Homo sapiens: one gene and its partners. The protein of the gene in region 4 interacts with the protein of the main gene of each other region in a pairwise test. Each region holds a gene or a part of one and is shown on either strand. Other genes may lie near its edges. The genes, in order: FAM83D, SVIL, BACH1 and HMMR.

The links.
Region 1: the proteins of HMMR (region 4) and FAM83D interact in binary tests that used the Homo sapiens proteins (3 or more experiments, as listed by UniProt).
Region 2: the proteins of HMMR (region 4) and SVIL interact in a two-hybrid assay, tested with the Homo sapiens proteins (one study listed by BioGRID).
Region 3: the proteins of HMMR (region 4) and BACH1 interact in a two-hybrid assay, tested with the Homo sapiens proteins (one study listed by BioGRID).

What each region holds. Positions count from the first base shown.
Region 1 is NC_000020.11:38,929,394-38,936,420, reverse strand, and holds part of FAM83D (protein FAM83D), read right to left. Parts: intron 1-7,027.
Region 2 is NC_000010.11:29,631,958-29,639,326, reverse strand, and holds the start of SVIL (supervillin), read left to right. Parts: upstream 1-4,355; 5' UTR 4,356-4,907; intron 4,908-7,369.
Region 3 is NC_000021.9:29,322,909-29,329,935, reverse strand, and holds part of BACH1 (transcription regulator protein BACH1), read right to left. Parts: intron 3,878-7,027; coding exon 2,543-3,877; intron 450-2,542; coding exon 243-449; intron 1-242. UniProt on the Homo sapiens protein: Transcriptional regulator that acts as a repressor or activator, depending on the context. Binds to NF-E2 DNA binding sites. Plays important roles in coordinating transcription activation and repression by MAFK.
Region 4 is NC_000005.10:163,484,607-163,491,633, reverse strand, and holds part of HMMR (hyaluronan mediated motility receptor), read right to left. Parts: intron 2,384-7,027; exon of another isoform or gene 2,251-2,383; intron 1,245-2,250; coding exon 1,082-1,244; intron 523-1,081; coding exon 470-522; 3' UTR 1-469. UniProt on the Homo sapiens protein: Receptor for hyaluronic acid (HA). Involved in cell motility. When hyaluronan binds to HMMR, the phosphorylation of a number of proteins, including PTK2/FAK1 occurs.

The DNA of each region.
Region 1 (7,027 bases), on a different chromosome or scaffold from region 4:
ATTCTTAGTCCCGATTCCGTCACTATCCCTGGACAAGCCATTCCATCTGAGTCTCGGTGTCCTTGAAACAAGGAACCCTTCCAGCTCTGCGAAGTCAGTGATTCATACACACTCAATGGGCAGGTCTAGGCTCTGACCAGGCACATGTGCAGCCCCAACAGGCCCCTCAGGGCCAGTCATTCCAGTTCTCATTCTAGCTCTTCTTCCTCTGTGTGAAGGAGGAAGTTCGTACCGATCACCCCTTCTCACTGCACCTCAGTTTCCCTCCCTTCCCTCCCAGAGTCATAAAGTGAGGTCAGGTGTGCAACATGCTTGGAATTCCACCAAAGATCTGCACCCACTCAATGTCAGCCTGTGCTGTGGTCAATAACATCCTGGCTGCTGCATTCTCCCAGCTGACCACATGGCCTCCATTGACCCTTCACTTCCTCTCCTAACTCTCTCAGGACCCTCTTGCTAAAAAAGCAAAAGATATATTTTCTCTCCATGTATTACATGTTTTAATAGAACAGAAATAATCTCCTTGGGATTTTGTCAAAAACCTTTAAGTAACTATCTTGACATCTTTGGGGTTTAAAAACAAAAAAGAATGTAAATTCCCACAGCGAAACCTAAACTTGCTTGTGTGCACTGTTCTCCCTCTGTTTCAGAGGCTATTATCAAATTAACAATTTAGGCCCGGCACGGTGGCTCACATCTGTAATCCCAATACTTTAGGAGGCTAAGGTGGGAGGATCACTTGAGGCCAGGAGTTTGAGACCACTCTGGGCAACACAGTTGACATCCTGTCTCCAGAAAAAATTTTTTTAATTATCTGGGCGTGGTGGCATGTGCCTTTAAGTCCCAGTTACTCGGGAGTCTGAGGCAGGAGGATTACTTGAGCCTGGGAGGTCGAGGCTGCAGTGAGTCATGATTGCACCACTGCACTCTAGCCTGGGCAACAGAATGAGAACTTGTCTCAAACAAACAAACAAGCAACCAAATAAAACAATTTAAGTATTAGATGAAAGTGCTGGCAGGGCCACCAGAGGGTGGCAGGAGCAAAGTTTTCACTGATCTCTGGAGGGACTGACCACTATTCAGTACTCTGTACTATTCCAGCATGAAGTACACAAGCAGGTGGGCTTTTCAAAGGGGAGGGAAAAGCACCAAGAAGTTAGGGGGTAGGGGGAGGAGGGCTTATCATTTTGAATTGTTTTTATTTTATAAGTATGTAAAACATTTGCCTAGTTCCAAAATCCAATTTACAAAACAAGGTACTTTCAAAGATACTTAGTTTCCATCCTTGTCCCTCCTCCCCATTGAGATAATATTTCCAATAGTTTTTTGTATATTCTTCCATTTTTTCAATATAAACAAGTATACACAGGTGTATATAAACATATTTGTTTTATATAAACATGTGTATTATGTATATAACTATGTATATGTGCTTATATCCCCCTATAGGTAAAAGGTAGCATGGAATACTACACATTGTTCTAGACTAGCGTGGCCCAATAGAACCTTCCAAGATGACAGAACTGAATCTTTATTTAATTTTAATCCATATAAATTTTAATAGCCTCATATGGCTACTACACTGGTCAGTACCATTCTAGATACCGCATATCAGAGCTAGTCCTCATTCCTTCTTAGAGCTACAGGATGTTCCACTGCAGAGACGAATCGGTTCATTCACAATGATGAACTCATCCTCTACTGACGAACACCTGAACTCTTTCCTGTGTTTTGCTATTATAATTAGTGTTGCAACGCATGGCCTATTGTCTACAACTATTCATATTTTTGCCAATATATCAAGATACAGAGAAGTGGAAGTGGTAGATCAATGGGTAAATATAACTGAAATTTTGCTAGATATTGCCAAATTCCCTTCCAGAGGTTATATCATTTGCATCAAGAATTTTTTTTTTTTTTTTTTTTTGAGACGGAGTTTCACTCTTGTTGCCCAGGCCGGAGTGCAATGGCACGATCTTGGCTCATCACAACCTCCACCTCCCAGGTTCAAGCTATTCTCCTGCCTCGGCCTCCCAAGTAGCCAGGATTACAGGCATGTACCACCACAACCAGCTAATTTTGTATTTTTAGTAGAGACCGGGTTCAAGATTTTTTTAAGCCAATATATCCACTACATTTTTGGGTTTTGCTTGCTTTTTTCCTGAAGTAACATACCTTCTATCCATAAAGAAGTCAGAGAAGAATTCTGCAGCTTCATTACTGTCTGCTAGACGCTAAGGGAAAAGAATAAAGAAATGGCAGACAGAGGCCAGGCATGGTAGCTCACGCCTGTAATCTCAGCACTTTGGGAGGCCGAGGAGGGCAGATCACGACGTCAGGAGCTTGAGACCATGCTGGCCGACATGGTGAAACCCTGTTTCTACTAAAATACAAAAAAATTAGCCGGGCGTGGTAGCGGGCACCTGTAGTCCCAGCTACTTGGGAGGCTGAGGCAGGGGAATCGCTTGAACCCGGGAGGCAGAAGTTGCAGTGAGCTGAGATGGTGCCACTGCACTCCAGCCTGGCGACAGAGCGAGACTCTCAAAAAAAAAAAAAGAAAGAAAGAAATGGCAGACAGAAAGTAGAATGGTGGTTGCCGGGGCCAGGAAAGGAGGGTATGAAGAGCTAGTGTTTAATGGGTACAGAGGTTCACTTTGGGAAGCTGAAACAGCTCTGGAGATTCGGCTAGTGACAGCTGCACAACAGTGTGAATGTATTTAATGCCACTGAACTGTACACTTACAAATGGTTAAAATGGTAAATTTTGCTACGTATTTTTTACCACAATATTTTTAAAGAGAAATGGCTAAATTCTAAAATCCTTAACCTGACACATGAAATCAAAAGGAAGGGATAAATAGTAGCAACACTTCAGTCCAGTGGGTAATGTCCCATAATGATGCACTAGTGAGAACTTCTAGGCCAGTGGTTCACAACTGGAGGGCGATTTTGCCCCCACAGGGCATTTAGCAATGTCTGGAGACATTTTTTTATTGTGGTAAAATAGATAAGTTTGCCATCTTAATAATTTTTAAGTGTACAATTCAGTGGCAATAATTACATTCACAACCATCACTACCATCTGTTTCTAAAACTTTTTCATAGCCCCAAACAGAAACTCTGTGCCCATTCATCAGTAACTCACTATTTCCCACTCTGGAGACACTGAATATCATGACTACCTGGTGTGAGGGATGCTATTGGCATCGAGTGAATGGGGGCCATGGATGCTACTCAACGTCCTACAATGTACAAGACAGCCCCTCAGGACAAAGAATTATCCAACCCAAAAGGTCAACAGTGCTGAGGGTGAGAAGCCCTGCTTGGGGCTGACATGAGCATTTGGAACAGAAACTGATCACACCACACAGGCTCTACTGTAATGCAGAGGAAAGTTGTGCAAGAACAGGAAAGCCTTCATTCAGATACATCCAAGTAAATGCCAGGGGCCCCCAACAGATTCCTAAGCTGCTACTCCTCCTGGCAGGGCTCTCTGGGAACGCAATGATCCCCACTACTAACGCTCAGGTTATCAAGAGGATGCCCGAGGGTGAGGTCATAGCAAAAGTGGCCTCTTTGGAACAAAAGAGAATAGGCACTGGTAAGAAACGTGACTCTGAGGAATTGGAACCTCGTGGTGGTACCAGCTTTGCCTCTGAACTCTCATTCAACAAACCAGGAATAGCCGGACAGCCAATTCATAAGCACATTGCCAAAATGAGGCTATGTAGCCCTTCCAGGCAGGCGGCCACAGCCCAGCCAAATCCCAGTTCACACAGCAACAGAGGCAAAAAGCTGAATGCGTCATCAACAGATACAGTGGTGGAGGGGTGGATCTACAGCAAGTATGTAGGGAAAATATCCTGTATAATTCAAGATTATCCAAAAACTTGCTTAGGAAACAAACATATGGGTTCTCAAAAGGTTCAAAACAGTATTTCCTCCAATTTTGGTGAAGCTCGCCTGAGCACCTGGTAAGCAGCCAGCTTGTATTCAAGCCATGCTATACGTAATTGTGTTTTTATTTATTTTTTAGAAACAGGGTCTTGCCCTGTCACCCAAGCTGGAGTGCACTGGCATGATCATAGCTTACTACAGCCTCCAACTCCTGGGCTCAAGTAATCCTCCTGCCTCAGCCTGCTGAGTAGCTGGAACTACAGGCACATGCCACCACACCCGGCTAATTTTTTAACTTTTTGTAGAGATGGGATCTCGCTATGTTGCCCAGGCTGGTCTCAAACTCCTGGCCTCAAGGAATCCTCCAGCCTTGACCTCCCAAAACACTGGGATTACAGGCATGAGCCACCGCGCATGGCCAAACCATTTGTTTTTAAACACTGTACCTCATTCAGTGTGGCAGAATGCCCACACTTTGAAAGGTATATAGAAACAAGAGTCAAGGAAGGGGCTGGCAGATTCACAAACCCCAGGCACAGCCACCCAGGGACAAATACTTGCTGAGTGGAAAGGCAGACAGAATCACCTGAACTACTTTTCTTCCTATCTACCGCTCCCTTCCCCCTGCCCTTTATTTCTCCTCAAAGCATGTAGCTGAATGAGCAAAGGTGCACATAATAGGCCCCTACAGTATTTACTGAGCATCTTTTATGTATCAGACACACTGAGTGATTCTGTGTGGTCAGAGAGCTGCTGGATAAAACCTATCCCAGAACCAGCGCTTCAGGCTGCAAAGCCAGGATTAGGCCCTACCATTTACCAAGTAACCCTGGCTTCCTGTGCCTATACTCTGGTCAAGGAGCCTCGTATCCTGGCTCCTTCCAGAGACATTCCTGAAGATGCAGGGTGGTCCTCAGACCACCTCAGTGAAGGCAGATAAAGCTGCATGGAGCGAACACTGAGGTTCGACCGTGCTCTACTGCAGCCTGGCCCCAACCTCTGGGGTTAAGTGGGACCCTTCATGTGGCATTCAAAGTTCCTTCATTCACCCACCAAAAGATTCTCACAGATCCCTCTGCTCCAGGTACCAGAAACATCTATCTGGCTCTATCTTTCCCAGGGAGAGGAAAACACACTCTAGTTTACAAAACCTAAACTCAGAGACCTATGTTCTCCTGGCATCATGAACCACCTTCCCCACTTGATGGGTTGAGGAGGTTCTCTGCCAGCCTTAATGCCTCCTACTCTAAAAACTGACCACCTCGTTTTCTTCCTGAAAAGGACAGGTCTAGTCATTGTCATTTTCCTGTTTATAGAATACGCAACATGGAAATTAAAAAGTCCCAATCTTCAACTGTTACAAACCTTCAGCCTGTTGAAAACTACCAAAGCTCCAATCCTTCCTCATGGCAGGGAGGCTGTATGCAGCAGGGATTAGGAGTGTGGGCTTCAGTGGCCGGGCACAGCGGCTCACGCCTGTAATCCCAGCACTTTGGGAGGCCAAGGCAGGTGAATCACTTGAGCCCAGGAGTTCAACACCAGCCTGGGCAACATGGCGAAACCCATCTCTACTAAAAACACAAAAATTGGCCGGGCGCAGTGGCTCACGCCTGTAATCCCAGCATTTTGGGAGGCTGAGGCAGGCAGATCGCGAGGTCAGGAGATCAAGACCAGCCTGGCCAACATGGCGAAACCCCATCTCTACTAAAAATACAAAAATTAGTGGAGGGTGCCTGTAATCCCAGCTACTTGGGAGGCTGAGGTAGGAGAATCGCTTGAACCTGGGAGGCAGAGGTTACTGAGAGCTGAGACTGTGCCACTGCACTCCAGCCTGGGCCAAAAGAGCAACTCTGTCTCCAAAAAAAAAAAGAAAAAATTAGCTGGGCATGGTGGTGTGCTCCTGTAATCCCAGCTACTCGGGAGGCTGAGTCAGGAGAGTCACTTGAATCCAGGAGGTGGAGGTTGCAGTGAGCTAAGATCATGCCACTGCACTCCAGCGTGGGTGACAGAGCAAGACTCTGTCTTAAAAAAAATAATAACAAACAACAAAAAAAAAACACTTGAGCTTCAGAGCTGGAACTAGACAGACTTGGGCTTGAGCCCAGCTCTGTCCCATGCTAACTGTGTGATCTCAGGCAAGTTACTTAACTTCTCTGTGCCTGGTCTTTTCTTAATTGTAGCCTCCTCCCAGTGTTGGGAGGGTTAAATGAGGTAATTCAGGTCAAGGGTTTAGCACAGAAACTGACCCATTCAAAGTGCTCAATCATATCACCATTAGGTACCTTTGCTATCAGAACACGGATGCAGAACAGCTTCTCATTTCATCCTGAAAGCAGCCTGAGACCTACACCTTCATGGTCCTCGCTGTCACAGGTACTAGATTTCAAAGGATGTGGTCAAGGTGACACAGCCACTCCCTTGTCCACAATGCATGCCCATAAATAGTAGTAGCTCTTAGCTAGCCACCAGATCTGCTGTCACCTCTCCCCACCTGAGCACAGGCTCCTGAACCCTCCACAGGGAGTGTGGTGGTTAACAGTGGTTCAGACATTCTGTGCCTCAATTTGAGTACAGGCTCCTTCATTCTCTAGCTGCATGACTTCGGGGCCACTTAACTTCTCTATGCCTCAGTTCTATCAGCTGTAAAATGAAGATGATAATCGCACCTTCCTTGGGATCACCTAGAACAGTGCCTGGCAAACAGAAAGCATTACTTTTTTTTTTTTTTTTTTTAAAGAGACAGGGTCTCCCCGTGTTGCCCAGGCTGGAGTGCAGTAGCCATTCACAGCGTAGTCATAGTGTACTACAGCCTCAAACTCCTGGGCTCAAATGATCCTCCTGCCTCAGCCTCCTGAGTAGCTGGGACTACAGGCACATGATACCATGGCCTGGCTTTTTTTTTTTTTTTTAAACAAAAGAGATTGTCTTTGGGACCTCAAATTCAGCACTGTCTCAAACCCAACTCATTTCAGCATCCCTTACCCCAGCTTCCTCTCCTACCACTAACCCGCTGTGGGGAATTTGGCTGCCCCCAAACATTCCAGGTCCTTAAACACTTGTGGGCCAGCCCCCATACCCTAGGTCTGGCAAGCCCCACCCAGCTCTGAGGTCACTGCCACTCCGGAGACTT
Region 2 (7,369 bases), on a different chromosome or scaffold from region 4:
GCTAGCGCACACCTGTAGTCCCAGCTACTCCGGAGGCTGAGGCAGGAGAATCACTTGAACTCGGGAGGAGGAAATTGCAGTGAGCCAAGATCGCGCCACTGCACTCCAGCCTGGTGACAGAGTGAGATTCTGTCTCAAGAAAAAGAAAAACAAAAAAGAAAGGGGAAGAGTTCTAGAGAACAGATTTCAAAAACTTGTTTTCTATTATATTTATAGCAGTATTCACATTGGAAGACCAGTGCAGTGACACACTTTCGTTATCCCAGCTACTCAGGTGGCTGAGGCAGGAGGATCACATAAGCCCAAGAGTTCAAGACCAGCCTGAGCCAAATAGTGAGAACCTGTCTCTAAAAATGAAATATAATCAAAAATTGAGATGACCCGATCTCCTCCCTTTCCAAAAAGTTGTTTTCTTGCTATTTCTCCAGAGTTGGTCAGGTTTTAAAAATTAATAATCTGGGGCAGTAGATGAAATTTCTGAAAATTATGTGCAGGTTTCCTTTTTTATTTTTGGATGGGCCCTAGGTATTAGAGGTGCTCTTTTTAAGTATCTACACAGCCTGCTAAATAAACACATTCAATTGGAAAGCAATGCTTTCCATTTCTTATTCTGTATCAAATATTTTACTTTCGGATTAACTTTCATTCTTATAGGGAAAAATAAATATTTCCAGTTTGAAATTCGTAAGATGGCATTGATAATAAGTAAATCTCTATAGATTTATGTGAAGTACAGTTACAGTAAGTCACCCATTTACAAATGGATTATATTTGAAAGTTTCATTTGAAGTAGGTTTGTTTTTTGGGGTTGGGATGCTTTTTCCTTGGAAAAAATACTTAATTAAACTTTTTTTTTTTTTGAGACAGAGTTTCACCCTTGTCACCCAGGCTGGAGTGCAATGGCATGATCTCAGCTCACTGCAACCTCCGCCTCCCGGGTTCAAGCAATTCTCCTGCCTCAGCCTCCCGAGAAGCTGGGATTACAGGCACATGCCAGCCACCATGCCTGGCTAATTTTTGTATTTTTAGTAGAGACAGGGTTTCACCACGTTGGCTAGGATGTTCTCAATCTCCTGACCTCAGGTAATCCATCCGCCACAGCCTCCCAAAGTTCTGGGATTACAGGTGTGAGCCACCCCGCCCTGCTTAAACTTTTAATTTTGAGATAATTATAGATTCAGATGTAGTTGTAAGAAATAGTACAAAGTGATCATGAGGGCTTTTTACCCAGTTTCTCCAGTGATAACATCTTGCAAAGCTATACAATAGTATCACAACCAGGATATTGACACTGATGTGGTCAATCCAATAGAAGAGTTCCAGAACAGGGGTCTCTCATGTGGCCCTGTTAAACCACCTCATCCCCATCCCTAACCTCTAACAACTCCCATCTCTTCTCCATTTCTATAATGTTGTCATCTGGGAAATGCTATGTAAGTGTACTCGTATAGTATCTAACATTTTGGGATTGGCTTTCTGTCACTCAGCATAATTTAATTCCCTGGATTCTTATCCAGGTCGTGGAACGTACTAATAATTTGTTCCTTTTTATTGTTGAGTAGTATTCCATGGTATGGATGTACCACAATGAGGATTGGGTAGAAGCTCATTGCTTTTGCCTAGGGGTGTCTAATTGCTCTAGCACTGTTTGTTGAATGGCACAGAAATCAGTTTGGCATATTCATGTGGGCCTGTCTCTGGGTTCTCCAGTCTGTTCCACTGATCTATGTTATGTGTCTCTCTTTTTGCCAATGCTGTGTTGTCTTGATTACTGTAGTTATCCAGTAGGCCTTAATATGGGATAGATTCATTGCTCTAACTTTTTTCTTCTTTTGAGACGGAGTCTCACTCTGTGGCCCAGGCTGGAGTGCAGTGGCATGATCTTGGCTCACTGCAACCTCTGCCTCCCAGGATTGGGTTCAAGCGATGCTCCTGCCTTAGCCTCCCTAGTAACTGGGATTACAGGTGTGCACCACCACGCCTGGCTAATTTTTCTGTATTTTTGATAGAGACAGTGTTTCACCATGTTCATTAGGCTGGTCTCGAACTCCTGACCTCAGGTGATCCACCCGCCTCGGCCTACCAAAGTGCTGGGATTACAGGCATGAGCCACCACGCCCAGACTAACTTTTTTCTTCTTTTTCAAGATGGTTTTTAGCTATTCTAGGGCCTGTACCTTTACTATAAATTTTAGAATATCTGCCAAAAATCACTGTGAGGCCAGGCAGGGTGGCTCACACCTGTAATCCTAGCACTTAAGAAGGCCGAAGTGGGAGGACAGCTGGAGCCCAGGAGTTCAAGACAAGCCTGGCCAACCTAATGAGACTCCATCTCTACAAAAACTAAGAAATTAAAAAATTAGCCCAGTGTGGTGGTGCACATCTGTAGCCCCAGATATTCAGGAGGCTGAGGCAGGAGGACTGCCTCCTGGGGAGGTTGAGGCTGCAGTGAGCCATGATTGCACACCTCTACTCCAGCCTGGACAACAGAGCAAGACCATGTCTCAAAAAAACAAAACAAAACAAAACAAAACAAAAAAACCTTGCAAGATTTTGATAGGAATTTTGTTAATCTGTAGATCAGTTTGGGGACAATTGACATCTTTTGTGTGTTGATTTTTCTTCCAATTCATGATTATCATCATTGGAAAGAAGTGAGTATGATGAGTCTTCTAAGCCAGGCAGATAGCAAAAAAATTAGGAAAGTAAATGGATTGCACAGGAAGAATTAACTGGGATTTAAATAATCAAAGACAGAAAGGATATATAAAAGAAGTGACGAAGGAGATTTACCCTATTAGACTCCAGTGTATTAATCTAGGACAGTTTGGTTGCTATGGGGAAGCAGTGTGCAAAAACTTAAGAGGCACACAAAAGACTGATGTTTATTTTGTGGGAGTGAATCTTTTTTTAGGAAGGAAATAGCACTATTGTGGTAACAGTGATTCATTTTCTCCTCCTATCTTCTCTTTACAGAGAAGACCCAAATAGTGAACTGTTTCATGTAAGTTTTTATTTATTTTTGCCCTACTTTTCTCTAGGGAGGGGCTTACCACAGCTTATAAAAATACGTAAAACAAGATCAAATAAACTTTAAAATGAGGAAAAAGCCAATATGGTCCAAGGGAAAAGAAGATCAGGGTCAGGACTGAGATTAGGATGCAAAAGCCATGCTATGAAATTTTGTTTGTTTGTTATCTTGAGATGGGTAAAAAAAAAAAAAAACAGTTGACTGGGACAAATACCCCTAGCACAAAACAGTCATGAAGCCAATGTTTAATTATTATACCTGTCATCTTTTCACCTGGCCTCAGGACTGTCCTCTTAGGGAGAGGCATTGTTCTGTAGGGTTAATTAGTAACAGGAATTTAGATCCTGCTTTGAGAGGCCTCCTGTGCTGGCCGAAGCAGCTGGTGGTCTGAGAACCCTGACACCCAGAGGCATACCACTGGGAGGCCCCGCGCAGCACACAGCTTTTGCTGTACTCCAGCCCAAGTCTTATGGGGTTTGTGGTTTATACTGAAGTTGGTGCAGACAATTAAGACTCTCTGTTCTTGGTACCGACAGGGACAGAGACCTACAATTGTAAGTATTTTGTAAACAGGGTTGTGATATTTGTTTGAGTGTATTCAACATGTCAGTGGCCTTTTAATGTTTAAAAAAATGCATATGGCCATTTAAGAAGTGGTTGTGCTTCATAGTTAATATTTTTTTCATTAGGTTAGGTTCATCTGGTTTTTCAGTGAGGTGAGCTACCTGAGAGCCATAGGAAGATAGATCTTGCCAGTTCAGAGGACTGACTTTGGCTTTAAGAGAAAATATTTGTGTCATTTTCGAGAAAGTACTTCCAGCACAATGCTTTCTTCTGATGATTCATTTTCTACAGTTATTGGAAGTGGGAAGAAATCCACAGAGGTTACAGAATTTGTAAACTTGTAGAGACATGTGCCATTATATCATGCTGTTTCATAGATGTGTATGTCTGTTAGTTACTTTTCGGGCATTCATTGTATATATGTCTGTTACTTACTTTTGGGGTGTTCAGTGTCTGAGCTTTGTCAACGATTGTGTGCTCTTTTTTTAGCCTAAAAAAACTAAGTTAGAGAAATGTTTGCTCATCCAAATCTGTATTGTTGTAGCTTATTCAGTAGACTGCTGTTGTATTTTTAATTTCTCTATACAACAAGCTGAAAGACAGTGTGGACAACCTAATTGCATTTGAAGTAGCTGCTGGCCAGGCCTGCTGCAACAGCTGATGGGCTCCTCTGAATTTCCAGGGCTATTTCTGGTAGATGAGCTGGTATCAAGGCTCTCGAGTTCAGGCCATAAAAGGCCCGTCCCATGTGAAGTTGCTTCACTGCTCTGACTGCGTCCTCCCCAGGCTGAAGTGTCCTCAGGTTTCATGTGGATTTGCCCAGTAATGGATGGCTCCACCGAGGCCAGGTTGGGGAAGTTCAGCCTCGAGGACACTAGGGGACGAAAAACTTCAAAAAGAAGACTCTTTTTATTAATATTTTGGCGTTCTTTTTGGAGAGGAACTTTTGGGATGTAGCCTTTACCTGTTTCCTGAATTTGACATCCAAAAAGCCTTTTGGAAAACACCATTCTAAATTTATCCTGTTCTGAATCATCATCGCTTCTGATAGATGCAGTTGCTTGCTGACATCGTGATCTTTGATTTTGTACAACGCTATTTGGGCTAACTTTTGGGATTTTACTTTGTGCTTAGAATTTGAAAGTAGTATTCATTGGAAAGAGACTCCAAGAAAATACTCGAAGACATCAAAAGCTGGATTCGAGGGTATAACGTGTTTTGTTTTGTTTTTTAAATTAGAAAAATAAGGAATTGCAGTGTGATTTTCTTTCCCCCTTTAACTTAGAGGAACGAGGATTATACAGAAATTTGAAGTAAGTGAAAAATCTTCCTATAAATCTAAATGCAGTAGGTTTTTTTTTGTTGTTTTTGTTTTTGCTTTTTTTTAAGTGCCATCTGTCTGAGCATGTTTCCTGAGGATTTGTTGACTTCAGTCATTGGAAAATTCCTGCCAGCGTTTGCCAGTTACTGCAGCCATTCCTGTAGATACCCTTGGGCATATTTCTTGGGTTGAGAAGGATTGGACTTTTTTTTTTTTTTAAAGGATTTACTTTATGGTAGAGAAAGGTTTAATACTAAAAATTTGATTAATATAACTTAGTACATTCTGTCTAAATGTTAGCACTTAAAGTCTTGGAATTAAAGTATATTCACAATGCAACGTACTTTAATAATCGTAGCACAAGTATGGGGGTGGAGTTCAGAAGGGCAAGTTTTATTTCACTGCCATTATAATTCATGTAAAAATAGAAAATCACCAGTGATCCTTTTGCATAATCTTTGTTCTGAGGGTTCTTTGCCTTGGTACTCTCATTCTTCAGGGCTTGATTTCTAGAACTTGCGATGTTCCAGAATTTATGAGAAAAACCTCACTGTAGGTTCTAGAGTTTGAACTGCATTTTATTTTTAAATTCTCCAAGAAAAAATACTGCATCAGCCTTTTAAAGCCCTGGAGATTGCTATGGTCTCTTTGTAATTTAGCTCAGTGATTTGTTTCTGCTGAAAAACAGCAGTGAACTCTAGAACATAGAAGGCTTATTTGACGTGTTGCTTCTTTGAAAAAAAAAAAAGATTATTTCTTTATACCACATCAGATGGACAAGTACGGGCAGTCATTATTTTTACCAGGTAGGAAAACAGAGTATTTATAGAGAAGAACTTCATCGGTGAATACTGCGAGGGTTCTTCACCGGAGATAGTGTGGCAACCCTAGGGGGCGTTTGAAAATGCATGGGGGTGTTTCAGGTTTTCTCAATGACTCACTGGCATTTGGGAGGATGTGGTTAAGAATTGTAAATGCCCAATTTACATGGTGTAGGGGACAGTCCCATACAGCATTACCCTGGCCAAACTGCTGGTGGTATCCCCTGTTGAGTAAAACTGCAGGATATAAATTGTACCCTCTGTCTCCAAAGAAGAGCAGCCCAGTGCCAGGCAGATGTGTGCTGTCTCTTCTCACCAAAACCAGTGATGTCTTTTTTTTTTTTTTTTTTTTTTGAGATGGAGTCTCGTGCTGTCACCCAGGCTGGAGTGCAGTGGCACGATCTCGGCTCACTGCAACCTCCACCTCCCAGGTTCAAGTGACTCTCCTTGCCTCAACCTCCCAAGTAACTGGGATTACAGGCACCTGGCACCATATCCAGCTAATTTTTTTTTGTATTTTTAGTAGAGACGGGGTTTCACTATGTTGGCCAGGCTGATCTTGAACTCCTGACCTCGTGATCCGCCCACCTTGGGCTCCCAAAGTGCTGGGATTATAGGCGTGAGCCCCTGCACCCGGCACCCGGTGATGTCTTGAGGATCCAGGGCATCAAGTGTGCACTAGTGTCAGAGAATTTGTCTTACAATGGAAACTTTGGAGTCTATACTCTGTGTGTGTGTGTGTGTGTGTGTTAAAGATAATTTATTTGGTCACCTTGATCACTGGATGAGGCTGATGTTATACAAGCTATTGTAGTACATTAGGTGCCTTCCTGCCTACCTTTATTTAGTACTATTGGTGCATTTAATTTTGCCACATGCATAGTCTTCCAAGTGAAATTTGGTTAATGCGCTCAGCTTGCAGTGGACATCAGTCAGCCATTCAACAAACAGTTCTTTATCTTTGCTTCTACTTTGGAGACAGACTGTTTTGTGATAAACAGACTTCTGGAAGACTTTGGAGTTCAATTCAGAGTGAACATCTTTGGCAACACCTGGGGTTATATAGTATTCTTTTTTTCTTTTTTCTTTTTTTTTTTTTTGAGATGGAGTCTTGCTCTGTTGCCCAGGCTGGAGTGCAATGACACAATCTCAGCTCACTGCAACCTCCACCTCTTGGGCTGAAGTGATTCTCCTGCCTCAGCCTCCCTACTAGCTGGGATTACAGGCATATGCCACTGCGCCCAGCTAATTTTTGTATTTTTAGTAGAGACAGGGTTTCATCATGTTGCCCAGGTTGGTCTTGAACTCCTGACCTCAGGTGATCTACCAGCGCTCGGCCTCCCAAAGTTCTGGGATTACAGGCATGAGCCACCACACCCGGCGAGTTATTTAATATTCTACAGTTGAGGAATTGCATCCAAAGGAAAGGGCCCTTGGGATTTTTATAAGGATGTCTGGTGAGCTCCAGCATGCAGGGCTCTCGGGCTACATGGAGCGTTATGGAGAGTAAGCTGCTAGGAGCCTTGTGATTGTTAGGGTACAAAGGCAGCCTTGGAATCATCTCCTGAATCTGCAGCTGCCTGGGATTTTAGGACACTCATTGCAATTTTATGTTAAAGCGCTGATCTCAGGG
Region 3 (7,027 bases), on a different chromosome or scaffold from region 4:
TGAATCTATTCACAACCACTAATGATTAGGTAGACAGTAAAGTCATTCTTAATTTGAAAACCTTCTTTTTAAAAAGCACTTACATATCACAGCATATCATGGTAAAAATGATAAAATGGTAATTGATACATATTAAAATAAGTAATTGAGCATTATATCTGACCTAGAAATTTAAAAACTATTTCCTTGACAAAAAAGAAAGTGGTGGAATTTAAATAGTAACAAGAAACTTTTACACTTACCAGCTTCTCAATTTCTGATTCAAGATTCTGTATACAGTCAAGTTTTCTCTTGCGACAGCGCTGTGCAGCAATTCTGTTTTTACTTCTTCTTCGAATATCATGGATACAATCCAGCTGTTCTGGAGTAAGCTTGTGCATTTTCAACAAGGACTGAAAATCATTTCGAGACAGTGAAATTATCCGTTGTGCATTGAATGGCAGTTTTACCTAGAATATGAAATAAATATTACTAATTATTGCTGTATTTTATAATTATAGTCAAACCTAGGAAGATGAAGGTATACATCTAAGTTTTTCAGAGAACTTATTTTACATTAAAGAAAACATAGGCCTCTATCCCAATTTCTATACAATCTCAAAAGGATATCTGCACTGATCTACACATATTTTTTTGGAGACAGGGTCTCTGTCATGCAGGAGTACGGTGGCACAATCATGGCTTACTGCAGCCTCAACCTCCTAGGCTCAAGCGATCCTCTCACCTCAGCTTCCTAAGTAGCTGGGACTACTGGCACATGCCACCATGCCTGGCTAATTTTTGTATTTTTTGTAGAGATGGGGTTTTACCATGTTGCCCAAGCTGATCTCAAACTCCTGGGCTCAGGCAATCTACCCACCTCAGCCTCCCAAGGTGTTGGGATTACAGGCATGAGCCACTGTGCCCAGTCTGTACTCCCCGCCATATTCGTTACCGCATTATTCACAATAGCCATGATATGGAAACAACCTAAATGTCCATGGATGGATGAACGGATAAAGAAAACGTGGTGTATATACACAAAGGAATACCATTCAGCCTGATAAAAAGAAGGAAATCCTGCCATTTGCCTACAATATGGAGAACTTGGGAGGCATCATGCTAAGTGAAATAAGCCAGACACAGAGGAGAGTAAATCCAACATGATTTCACTTATACGAAGTAGACAGAACAGTCAAACTCACAGAAACAGAGAGTAGAATGGTGGTTGCCAGGGGCTAGGGAGAGGGAAAAAATGGGGAATTGCAATTGGATGGGTTAAGTTTCAGTCATAAAAGAATAAGTTATAGAGATCTGCTGTACAATATTGTGCTTATACTTAACAATACTGTATCGTACACTTAAAATTTTGTTATAAGGGTAGATCCCATGTTAAGTATTCTTACAAAAAACAAATAAAGCCCAAGAAAGGGGAAAAAATGCAATGGATAAAATAGAAAAATAATTTTTAAAAAGAATGTAAATTGTGATTATAAAGAGAAAAGCCAACTATTGAAAGGCAAAAAAAATCATAAAATATAAAAACAAAAAAAAGAAAAAATATTTTAATTAATATATTTTTGGAAGGAACTAACAGGCCCTTGTCATTATTGGACTTATAAGTAATATTTTACAGAAAGGATCTATCAAATACAAACAGAATATACAAATCAAGCTTGCTTTGATTAATATCATACCAGCTACATGTAACTCATGCTAAATTAAGACATTCATCAATAGTTGAAATGGCCAAAGGAAAATTTAAAAATCAATGGCCATGAAAAACTAGATCCAATAAACTTTACTCCACTAGAAGTCACATTCCTACAACTAATCACTGTTAAACCACTGCTCAGGGACATGTCCCAGGTCTAGAGGTTCTTGTTGGCAATGAGCAAGACTGAATATATGCTGCATTTTTCCAGGAGTTATCAAATAATGAGCATAGAATCATTATTCTTTTTTGTCTTGCAGCATGGCATTTGATTTAAACAATTAAATGGCCGATGTGTGAACACAGCCAATGTGTGAACCTACTTTATGGTTAATATATCTACTGGAAACGAATGAACAGAAGTCCTTCAAACTTCATCTCTCTCTTTTGGTATTTATCACACAGTGTTTTTAAAAAATTTTTTGAGACAGTCTTGCTCTGTCTCCTAGGCTGGAGTGCAGTGGTGCAAACCTGGCTCACTGCAACCTCCGCCTCCCACATTCAAGCGCTTCTCCTGCCTCAGCCTCTCGAGTAGCTGGGATTACAGGCACCCACCACCACACCCAGCTAATTTTTGTAGAGACGGAGATTCGCCATGTTGGCCAGGCTGATCTCAAACTTCTGACTTCAGGTGATCCACCCACACCTCGGCTTCTCAAAGTGCTGGAATTAACAGTTGTGGGCCACTGCGCCCAGCCCTATCACACAGTCTTACAATTAATTTTGTATGAGTTTCCTCCCCACTCCCTGAACCTGATTATATCCCTAATGATGCAAAGGGAGCTGATCCACAGTAAATCCCAATTAATGGTTATTAAAACAATGAATTAAGAACATATTCCTGCTCACCTCACATTCTTGTTCTCTGGCTGAACAGGATTCACTGTCTCCTTCGGTGTCCGTCTCAGAGTCGTCTCCCAAGCTAATGACACAAGCATATGGGCAAGGTTCTTGCTGGGGTTCTGAAACATAATCATCGTTTCCAATTTCCAAATTGCTTGAACAGCCTTCAGTACTCAGAGTACTTATAAAAGGGCAGTTGACAGAACTTAATGTTGTGAAAGTCCTTTGACCTGGTTCTGGGCTCTCACTAATCCTGATACCTAACCACGGACACTCAGACCGTTTCTGTGAGATCTGTTCTGAGCCATCTTTGGCCACAGCAGGTGATAACTGCATTTGGCAAGGAGTGTCCGTGCTGCAAATGTCACTCCAGAAGCCTTTTGCTAGGTGTTCTGCCACTTCTCGCTCCACACTACTCCTATCACTAGATGCAACACTACTATCTTCCCTGGTGCCCAAGTCGGATTTCAAAGGTAAATCCTGACTTTCACCAAATGTTTTTTCTTGGACGTCTGTACCTGACAAAGGCTTTTCTGTTAACACTGTTGTGTTTTGCATACCAGCAAAATTCAAGTCACCATATTGGTCATATGTGTGTAAAAGAGACAAAGAATAAAGTCCATGAGGGTCTATGGAAGAATTGTGGGGGAAAGGAGTCACTTCTGATTTTTCAGTTGGGCACTGAGAAGCAGGATCTTTCTTCGTTTCTTCAGGTTCCATTGCTAATTTACTTTCGTCACATTTTAACATCACCTGCAAATCTCTACACTCCGGGACTCCTCCCAGGCATTCATTTTCAGACCTTTCATTTGGCTGAACAGAAGCATGAATGTCTTTGACACTAGATTCCCCAGTACGGACTCTGTCAGTTCCAAATGCTTTTTGGAATTTTCTGTATTTGGGGCATAAAGAAGGCAAGGCCAGAGCAGCATCCTTCTCTAAGCACATGGACTCATATGTCTGACTGGCACTGTCTTGTAGAGGAGGTGAGGCTTTTGCATTTCCTTGATACCTGCGGAGTTTACACTGAGGAGTCTGAACATTTTTATTTTCCAGAAATTCCTCCACTTCATCAGTTTCTAGATCCCTCTGGTCCAAAAGTGAAAGTTTAAGGTCTGTTTTCTGACAGTGTGATGAAAAGCATTTTTTTCTTGGGCATTCTTGCTGGTCTGCAGTGGAGTCCAAAAACTTAAATTTCAGAAACTGAAAGCAGGATTCCTCAATATTATGTACACTTAAAAACTCCACACATTTGCACACTTCATCCACATTCTCTTTACTTAAAATCAGTTTAGCAGTGTAGGCAAACTGAATTAAAGGTTCAAATCCTTTAACTGTCACCTGTTGATACACAAAATAAAAACAAACACATCATTTGAAAGCTGTCTAGTACATAAAAACAAAATAAGTAGAAGAGGAATAGAGAGATATGTAACTTATTTGTGATAATTATAAAATATGTACTTTAATTTGAAGAAAACATATTCTTCTAAGAAATGTAAAAGAAAAAGATCCTGGAAAAGCATGCTTTTCACAGGGACCACACACTATTTTATAGAGTCCTCTCTTAATTGCACATGAATTATGGTTTACTCACATAAGTTAAAGATGTAAGACATTACCACAATTTTCCCATGATAGTGAAAAAAAAAATCATCTATGAATTAGAGCAGGATGAACACTACCTGCCACACATAGTGAGTCTACTGCTAGCCCAGCTCCACATGGCCACTGTATTCCAAACAACTCCAACTGCTACAAGCTACAAAAGCAGAATTTTAAAGGATATAAAACAGTATTTGTAAAGCAGTTACAAAGTCTTGATCCATGGTAAATGCATACTAACTGGTAACTATTAACTTTACTGTCAAAAATTCCTAACAGTAAAAGTTTTAAAGATTCAGATTTTTAAAAGTGATCTAAGAGAAGTTATAAAAATCATGCCTCGGTACTGTTTCAGCAAAAATTCATGGACTCGAAGTAACAAAACTTTTAAGTAGAAACTTGCACATTTACATTAAACCTGCCTCTTAAAGTGAGAGGCAAATGGAACCAACTCCAGTACACAGAAGGCATCATCCTGGATTAAAAGCACAAAATTAATTTGAAACCACTGAGTTCTTATAAGAGTGGTCAAGATAATATTAATATTTGTGATTTTTTTTTTTCTAAGACGGAGTCTCGCTCTGTCGCCCAGGCTGGAGTGCAGTGGCGCGATCTCGGCTCACTGCAAGCTCCGCCTCTCGGGTTCACGCCATTCTCCTGCCTCAGCCTCCCGAGCAGCTGGGACTACAGGTGCCTGCCACCATGCCCGGCTAATTTTTCTGTATTTTTAGTAGAGACGGGGGTTTCACCACGTTAGCCAGGATGGTCTCTATTTCCTGACCTCGTGATCCACTCGCCTAGGCCTCCCAAAGTGCTGGGATTACAGGCGTGAGCCACCGCGCCCGGCTGTGATCTTCTTAAAAACATAAACATGCTAAACCATGTTTAGGCTTTTTAAAGGCTCCAATAAAAAGCAGTGATACCATCAAATGCTAATGAGAATGCCGATAAACTAAATCACTCACATATTGCTAGTGGGAATGTAAAATGGTACAGACACTTTGAAAAAAACTTTCTTATAAAACTAAACATGCAACTACCATATAACCCAGCAACTGCACTCCTGGTCTTTTATCCCAGAGAAATGCAAATTTATGTTCACACAAAAACCAGTACACAAATGTTTACAGCAATTTTATTTGTGATAGCCAAAAACCAGAATTAGCCTGATTTCCTTCAATAGGTAAAAAGCTACACACACACACACACACACACACACACACACACACACACACACAAGGTACATCCATACTACAGAATATTACTCAGCAATAAAAAGGAATAAATTGCTGATACACACAAGCTGGATAATCTCAGCTAAGTCAAACAACATCAATCCTAAGAGGTAATATACTGCATAATTCCATTTATATAACATTTTTAGAATGACAAAACTTTAGAAAAGGAAGAAAGATTAGTGGTTGCCATGGATTAGGCACGGAGGAAGGGGGCAAGGGGATGAGGGCATGGAGTGTAGGCAGGAGATGTCTGTGGTTATAAAAGGACAACACAAGGGATCTTTGTGTTGGCAAGTTCAGTTCCTTTTTTTTTTTTTTTTTTTTTGAGGCAGAGTCTCTCTCTGTCACCCAGGCTAGAGTGCAGCGGCACGATCTTGGCTCACTGCAAGTGATTCTCCTGCCTCAGTCTCCCGAGTAGCTGGGATTACAGGTGCCCGCCACCACGCCTGGCTAATTTTTGTATTTTTAGTAGAGATGTGGTTTCACCATGTTGGCCAGGCTGGTCTCGAACTCCTGACCTCAGGTGATCTGCCTGCCTCGCCCTCCCAAAGTGCTGGGATTACAGGCATGAGCCACTGGGCCCGGCTGTTATCTTAACTATGGTGGTGGATACACAAACCTTCGCAGGGGATAAAATTATATAGAACTTAACCCGCACACACACATGCTAGTACAAGCAAAATTGTGGCAATCTGAACGCTATGGGAGATTGTATCAATATCCTGGTTGTAATACTATACTACAATTTTGCAAAATGTTATCAATGGCGGACACTGGACAAAGTGAAAAGGAACTCTGCATTGTTTCTTACATCTGTACATGAAAACATCAGTGTGACAGTTAATATTAAATGTCAACTTGATTGGATTGAAGGCTGTAAAGTCTTGTTTCTGGGTGTGTCAGTGAGGGCGTTGCTAGAGAAGACTAACATTTGAGTCAGTGGACTGGGAGAGGAAGACCCACCCTCAATATGGGTGGGCACCATCCACTCAGCTGCCAGCGAGGCTGGAACAAAACAGGAGGAAAAAGGTGGGATAGGTGACTTGCTGAGTCTTCCAGCTTTCATCTTTCTCCCCTGCTGGATGCCTCCTGCCCTTGACATCAGACGCCAGGTTCTTTGGCCTTTGGACTCTCAGACTTACACCAGCGGTTTGCCGAGGGCTCTTGGGCCTTTGGCCACAGACTGAAGGCTCTACAGTGTTGGCTTCCCTACTTTTGAGGCCTTTGGACTCGGACTGGGCCACTACTAGCTTCCTTCCTCCTCAGCTTGCAGGTGGCCTATAATGGGCCTTCACCTTGTGAACATGTGAGCCAATTCTCCTTAACAAACGCCCCTTCATACATACATATATCCTATTAGTTCTGTCCCTCTGGAGAACCCTAATACACTCGATAAAAATTTCAATTAAAATTTTTAAATATGTTAAAATAATCTAAAAAGGTCTTTAGGATAGTGAGTTATAAGGTATTTTGACATTGTCACTATAATGAAACACTTCAAATATTTGAAAACTTATGATTTACACATTAGAAAGAATGAATGAATGCATACACACATGCATGTATGCACATACCTTTCCTCCTAAATCCACGAATCAAACTTTGCTTTACTTGTAAAGTCTCATTCAATAATTTGAAAATATGAACC
Region 4 (7,027 bases):
GAACTGGACAAGTAGAAGGATAATAGGTAGGACCAAGTGAGCATTATCAGAATCAAAGTAGAGGCAATAACAAGCCAAGGTGTTTTAGCCTAGCTAAAGAAGCTCAGACTAGAAAAGACCTCCAGGATCAAGCTGAAGAATCTGGGGTTTAGACTCTTGAAACTAAGGTTTCAGAACAGGAGGATAATAATATGATACTGACTTTTAAGTTGATGAGATGCATTCTAAGCTGGAAAGCCAGCGAAAGGGTTCAGAATGAGGTGATAAAGGTGAGCATTAGGGAGGAGGTATTTGCAAGAAAAAATAAAATGTCAAAAGACACTTTGGTAAAAAATGTTCCTTTCACATATTTAAGGATTGGCAGTTAAAATTAAATACAACATTATAAAATACCCATGTCAAATATAATAACAGCAACATCAATAACAACAAGACGAATGAAATAATCTTCAACAGGTTTCTCAGATGTTTACTTCCATGATTCTTGACACTCCATAGGAGCTCGGTAACAGTTTGTATTGCCTAGAAGAATTATTGAAAAGAAGGATTAGTAATCTAGATTAAAACGAATTTATCCATCATTATAAACTAAAAACAGGCCTTGTATCTTCTTTAAGGCAGATGAAGCAATATATTCTGTAAGATAATTTTTAGATTTATCATTTCAACCAACTTTAATTTATCGTGAAAGACAAACATTCACAGTCAAGAAATAAGAAATTTACTTCTCTAAAACTACAAATCAGAAAATGATTAAGGACCTAAGAGACATTTAGGTTAAAATGCTAAGGGTATTATAGAGGGAGTAATTTGGGGTGTGTGGACAGGGACAAAATAGTCATGCAAAGCTTCAAGGAAGATTTGAGATTTGCCTTGAAGAACAGGCAGAATCCAGGTATACAGAAAAGAAAGCGTAGAAGGAGGAAGAAAACAGTCATTGTACACAACAATCTCAGTAAGAACTGCTTTTATCAGAAGGTGTCAACAAATTTTCACAGTTCATAAAATGGATGACTTGCTAAATGCTATAAAAGCAAATCCAAAGGAAGAGGACACTTTTATACATTTATTCATGTCTTACCTTCTTTTAATGGGGTCTTCAGGGCAAAATTTTCTTTACTTTCATGATGAAAAGCCTTTGAAGGATCAAAGTGTTTGATACCTAGAACTTTATTCAATTCCTCTTGAAGTTTTGTCTCACTTTGTTTTTTTTTAGCAAGCTGACAGCGGAGTTTTGATACTTCCTAGGTAAAAAGAAATAATAGGTAATAAACAATTATTAAAGAGTATGTCAGTGAAATGTGTTACCAATGTTGCGGGCAAATTCCAAAGTTGTTTATGTATTATCACACTCAACAGCAAAAATCACTACTAGACACAGGCTTTAAGACTGAATTACAAAATGACATGAAACAGCTGTGACAAAGGAGATACAGTCTTTTAAATCTCCTTGCCCCTCCTCAGCTACAAAGCTATTTTTCTGATAAAAGTTCAACTCAAAAGTAATTGCTGAGATGGACTTCTGGCATGACAGCATGAAAGTTCTGCTGACCTGCTCCCTAGTGAAACTAAAAGTTATAAAATATTAACCAGTTAAAGCCTCTGAAAATTGACCTAAGGGAAAAATAGCAAATGAAGAAACATCTATTCAAGAAAATCTGCAAAAATTTGGTGAAAAAGAGAGTCTGCAGTGTTTAAGCCAAAACTCCTTCCCCTCTTCCCACTCCCAGCTTAGCAAGGCAAAGTCCACGCCAGACGGCTACAGCCAAAAGCACAGGGCCCTCTTTTCCCCCAACTCCGAGTCAGAAGCTTCCCTCCCAGGAGGACCAGGACATCAGAGTTTCTCATTTTGTCCCCAGCTCCCTGTGGCTGCAGTTATATCCTGGACAAATGCAATTGTGAGGTGGGGGATCCCTTCCTCCAGTCAGCCCCATTCATGGAACAGGGGCTCACCTTGGGCACAGTGTGTTGAAAATGCTGGGCCCCGATGACTCTTTCTCTGGCTCATGAGGGGGATGGTTCTACACCAGGAGGTTACTCAAGAGGGCCTGAGGCTATTCCTCATCTCTTCCCCACAAGTCCACTGAAAACTCAGCTCCTAGGGCAGAGGATGTCACTCAGAGAGAAAACTGCCATTGTCCCCAATTTCAGCTCTAGTCCTGGCTCAGGGATATTGTCGGGGGAGGGGGAAAGGAGGGCGGAAAAGACAAGTAGGCCATAAAACAGGGAGCTCCTCATTTCTTTTCAAAGGAACTGACTTCACCTGCAACAGAGCTTGGAGAAGCTGAAGCCTAAGGGTGCTCTAAAGCAGGGGTCCCCAACCTCCGGGCTACAGACCAATACCCATCCAAGGCCTGTTAGGAACCCGGCTGCAGAGCAGGAGGTAAGTGGTGAGCCAGGAAGCATAAGCATTACCCCCTGAGCTCCCCCTCCTGGCAGATCAGCTGCGGCATTAGATTCTCACAGCAGTGTGAACCCTATTGTGAAATGCACATGTGAGGGATCTAGGCTGCATGCTCCTTATGAGAATCTAATGCCTCATGATCTGAGGTGGAACACTTTAATCCTGAAACCATCCACATAAACCCATCACAAGCTGGGTGATCCGGTCTGTGGAAAAACTGCCTTCCACAAAACTGGTCCCTGGTGCCAAAAAGGTTGGGGAACCATTAAAGAACAGTGGTGGTTATAGTGAGAGAGAAATGGGAGGAGATTTAAGATACAGGCTGAACAGTAGGCTAGTTAGTTTGCAGGAGAAAACTAGGGAATATGACAGCTGGGACGAGCCCTTCTGTAGTCAGAATAAATATCCAGCACTGCTCTCGTATGCAATCCCTACAAAGGAGCCAGAATTTGATTGGATTAGTTTATAGAGCAATTTATGCCCTAAGGCACTGTTGCAAATAATCAAGCAAGGAGCCAGCATCTACTGGAGTTTACAGTCACTATGTTCACGGAAAGAGAGGAAGGCAGCCCTACCAAAGCAAGTGTCATCCCAGGGTAATTGTGGGCACACCTAAAACTGTACCTCCCTGAACAGCAACATCAGAGGCACAATACTGTTGGGGTCTGGGGAGGTAGTGGGATATGTTTCCCTAAAATAATTGAGCCACTCATTAAGCAAACAAGCAAATAAAAAGCCCCCAAAAGGAGGGGGAGCTGTACCCAGAAATGCTACAATATATGATCTAAAAATTTACTTTCCAATGAAAAATTACAAGGCATGCCAATAAACAGAAAAGTATAACCTATACATTTGGACACAAGGAGAAAAAATGTCTGAGAGTAATCGGATGTTGGATTTTTCAGCCATTAAACAAGGGCTGAAAAACCACCTATTGAGTACTATCCTTACTGCCTGGCTGACGGGACCTGTCATACCCTAAACCTCAGTATCATGCAATGCACCCATGTAACAAATCTGCATATGTACCCCCACATCTAAAATAAAAGATGAAATTATAAAAAAGAAAAGTTCTTGGCCAGGTGCAGTGGCTCAAGCCTATAATCCCAGCATTTTGAGGCCAAAGCTGGTAGATTCCTTGAGCCCAGGAGCTCCAGACCAGCCTGGGCAACATGGCAAAACTCTGTCTCTACAAAAAGTAGAAAAATTAGCCGGATGTGGTGGCGCACGCCTGTAGTCCCAGCTACTTGGGAGGCTGAGGTGGGAGGATCACCTGAGCCCAGGGAGGTTGAGGCTGCAGTGAGCCGTGATTGCATCACTGCACTCTAGCCTGGTGACAGAGTGAGATCCTGTCTCTAAAAAAACCCAAAAACCAAACAAAAAAATAAAGTTCTTTCTCCACTAAAAATTTAAAAAAAGAAAGAAACTTAAAAAAAAAAGACTCAAATTACTAGAATCAGAAATAAAGAGAAGCCATTACTACTGACCTTACAGAAATAAAAAAAAGATTATAAAGGAATACTATGAACAATTATATACCAACAAATTAGGCACATTTATAGAAAGACATAAACTACTCAAGAAGAAAACCGAATCAAGAAGAAAGAGATAATCTGAATAAGCCTATATCAAGTAAAGATATTGAATTAGTAACCAAAAAATATTCACAAGAAAAACCAAGGTCCAGATGGCTTCACCAATAAATTCTACCACACATTCAATGAAGAATTAATACCAATTATTCAAAAACCATTCCACATAGAAAAGAGGGAACATTTCTCACTCATTTTGTGATGTCACCATTACCCTGATACCAAAATGAGACAGACATTAAAAAAACAAAAACAAAGCAAAGAAAACCTACAGACCAGTATATCTTAGGAATATGGCTGAAAAAAACCCCTCAGCAACATATAAAAATAATTATATGCCATAACCAAGTGAGATTTATCTCAGAAGGTTAGATTAATATCTAAAAATCAATTAATAAAATACATCATATCAACAGAATAAAAAAATTACATGATAATCTCAATAGAAATAGAAGAAGCACTTGATAGAATTCATTACCCTTTCATATAAAAATGCTCAACAAACTAGGAAACAGAAGGGAACTTCCTCAACTTGATAAAGAGCATCTATGACAAATCGACATCTTTGTTTTTTTTAGATTGTTTCGCTGTTGTCTCCCAGGCTCAATGGCTCCATCTCGGTTCACTGCAACCTCTGTCTTCTGGGTTCAAGCCATTCTCCTACCCAAGTAGCTGGGATTACAGGCGCCCGCCGCCACACCTAGCTAACTTTTGTATTTTTAGTAGAGACGAGGTTTCACCATGTTGGCCAGGCTGGTCTCAAACTCCTGACCTCAGGTGATCCACCTGCCTTGGCCTCCCAGAGTGCTGGGATTATAGGCGTAAGCCACCTCGGCTGGCCAACAAATCAACATCTAATAATGTCACGCTATATACATCATACAGGTAACATCATATATCATGGAGAAAGACTGAATGCTTTCCCCCTAGATCAGGAACAAAGCAAGGCTGTCCATCCATTTTCATTACTTCTAAATTCAACACTGTATTATACTACAGGTTTTAGCCAGAGATATTAGACAAGAAAAAGAAATAAAAGGCATCCAGATTGGAAAATAAGTAACACTATCTCTATTTGCAAAAGACATGATCTATAAGAACATCCTAAGGAATCCACTAAAAAACTATTAGAACTAAAATGAGTTTAGCAAGGGTGCAGGATACAAGATAAATATATTAAAATCAATTGTATTTCTATACACTGGCAATCAACAATCCAAAAATGAAATTAACAATTTCATTTACAAAACATCAAAAAGAATAAAATAGTAATAAATTTAACAAGAGAAGTGGAAAACTTATACTCTGAAAACTATAAAACATTGTTGAAAGAAATTAAATGAGATCTAAATAATTGGAAAAATATCCCATATTCATGTATTAGAAGACTTAACCTAGTGAAGATAATAATATGTCCCAAACTGATCTACAGATTCAATGCAATTCCCATCAGAATCCCAGCTGGTTTCTTTGTAGAAAAACTGATTCCAAAATTAATATAGAATTGCAAGAGGTCCAGAATAGACAAAACCATATTGAAAAATACAAAGAGGACTCACGCTTCCTGATTTCAAAACTTACTACAAAACAACAGTAATCAAGACAGTGTGGTGGCACAAGGATAGATGTATAGATCAATGGAAGACAGTTGAGAGTCTAGAAATAAATCCATACATGTACAGTCTAAATGATTTTTTAATTGGATGCTAACTCCATTAACTGGAGGCAAGAATATTCTCTTTAAAAAATAGTGTGGGGACTATTGCATGTCCACATGCTAAAGAATGAAGCTGGACCCTTACCTCACACCACATACAAAAATTAACTCAAAATCAATCAATAATCTAAATGTAAGAGCTAAAACTATAAATCTCTTAGAAGAAAACACAGGGGTAAATCTTCCTGACCTTGAATTTGGCAGAGGAGATAGATACCAAGGAACGAACAAACAAAAAAATAGACACACTGGACGTCATAAAAGTTTTTTGGGTCAAAGGACATCATCAAGAAAGTGAAAAGACAATGCACAGAATGGGAGAAGATATTCGCAAATAATACATAAGAGACTTGTGTCCAGAATTGATGAAGAATTCTCACAATAATAAAAAGACTAATAATCCAATTTAAAAATGAGCAGAGTATAAACAGACATTTCTTTCATGAAGATATACAAATGGCCAGTAAGCACATGAAAAGATGACCAACATCATTACCAATTAAGAAAATGCAAGTTAAGTTAATGAGATACCACTTCATACCCACTACAATGGCTAGGATAAAGAAGTCAGATAATAACAAATGTTGGTAAGAATGTGGAGAAATTGGAACCCTCGTACACCGCCTGTAGAATATAGATTGGTATGAGCCACTTTTGAATACAGCCTGACCTTTCTATGGCCATACCACCCTGAACGCACCCGATCTCATCTGAATGTAGTCTGATACTTCCTGAAATGATTAAATGTAGAGTTATCAAATGATCTGGCAATTTCCCTCCTATTATTTCCCAGGGAAATAATATGTCCCAGGAAAAAACAAATGTCCATACAAAAACTTGTACATGAATGTTTATGGTAGCATTATTCATAATAGCCAAAAATGTGCAAACAAGTGTTTATCAACTGACAAACGAATAAATAAAATGTGGTATACCCACATAATGAATTATTAGGCTATAAAAAAAATAAAGTACTCTCCATGCTACAACACAGGTGAATCTTGAAAATATTATGCTAATTGACTGAAAGAAGCCAGTAACAAAAGGCCACATATTATTTGAATCCATGAATATGCCAGGTCCACAATAGGGAAATCAACAGAGACAGAAAGTAGATTAGTGGTTTCTTAGGGCTGAAGGGTGGGGTGGGGTGAGGAGATAGGAGAGTGTTAGGAAAAGGATAACAAGGTTTCATTTTGAGGTGATGAAAATGTCCTAAAATTGACTATGGTGATGGTTGCACAAATCTGTGAGTATACTAAAAAACACTGAATTGTCCACTTTCAATGGGTGGATTGTATGGGTTGTCAATTA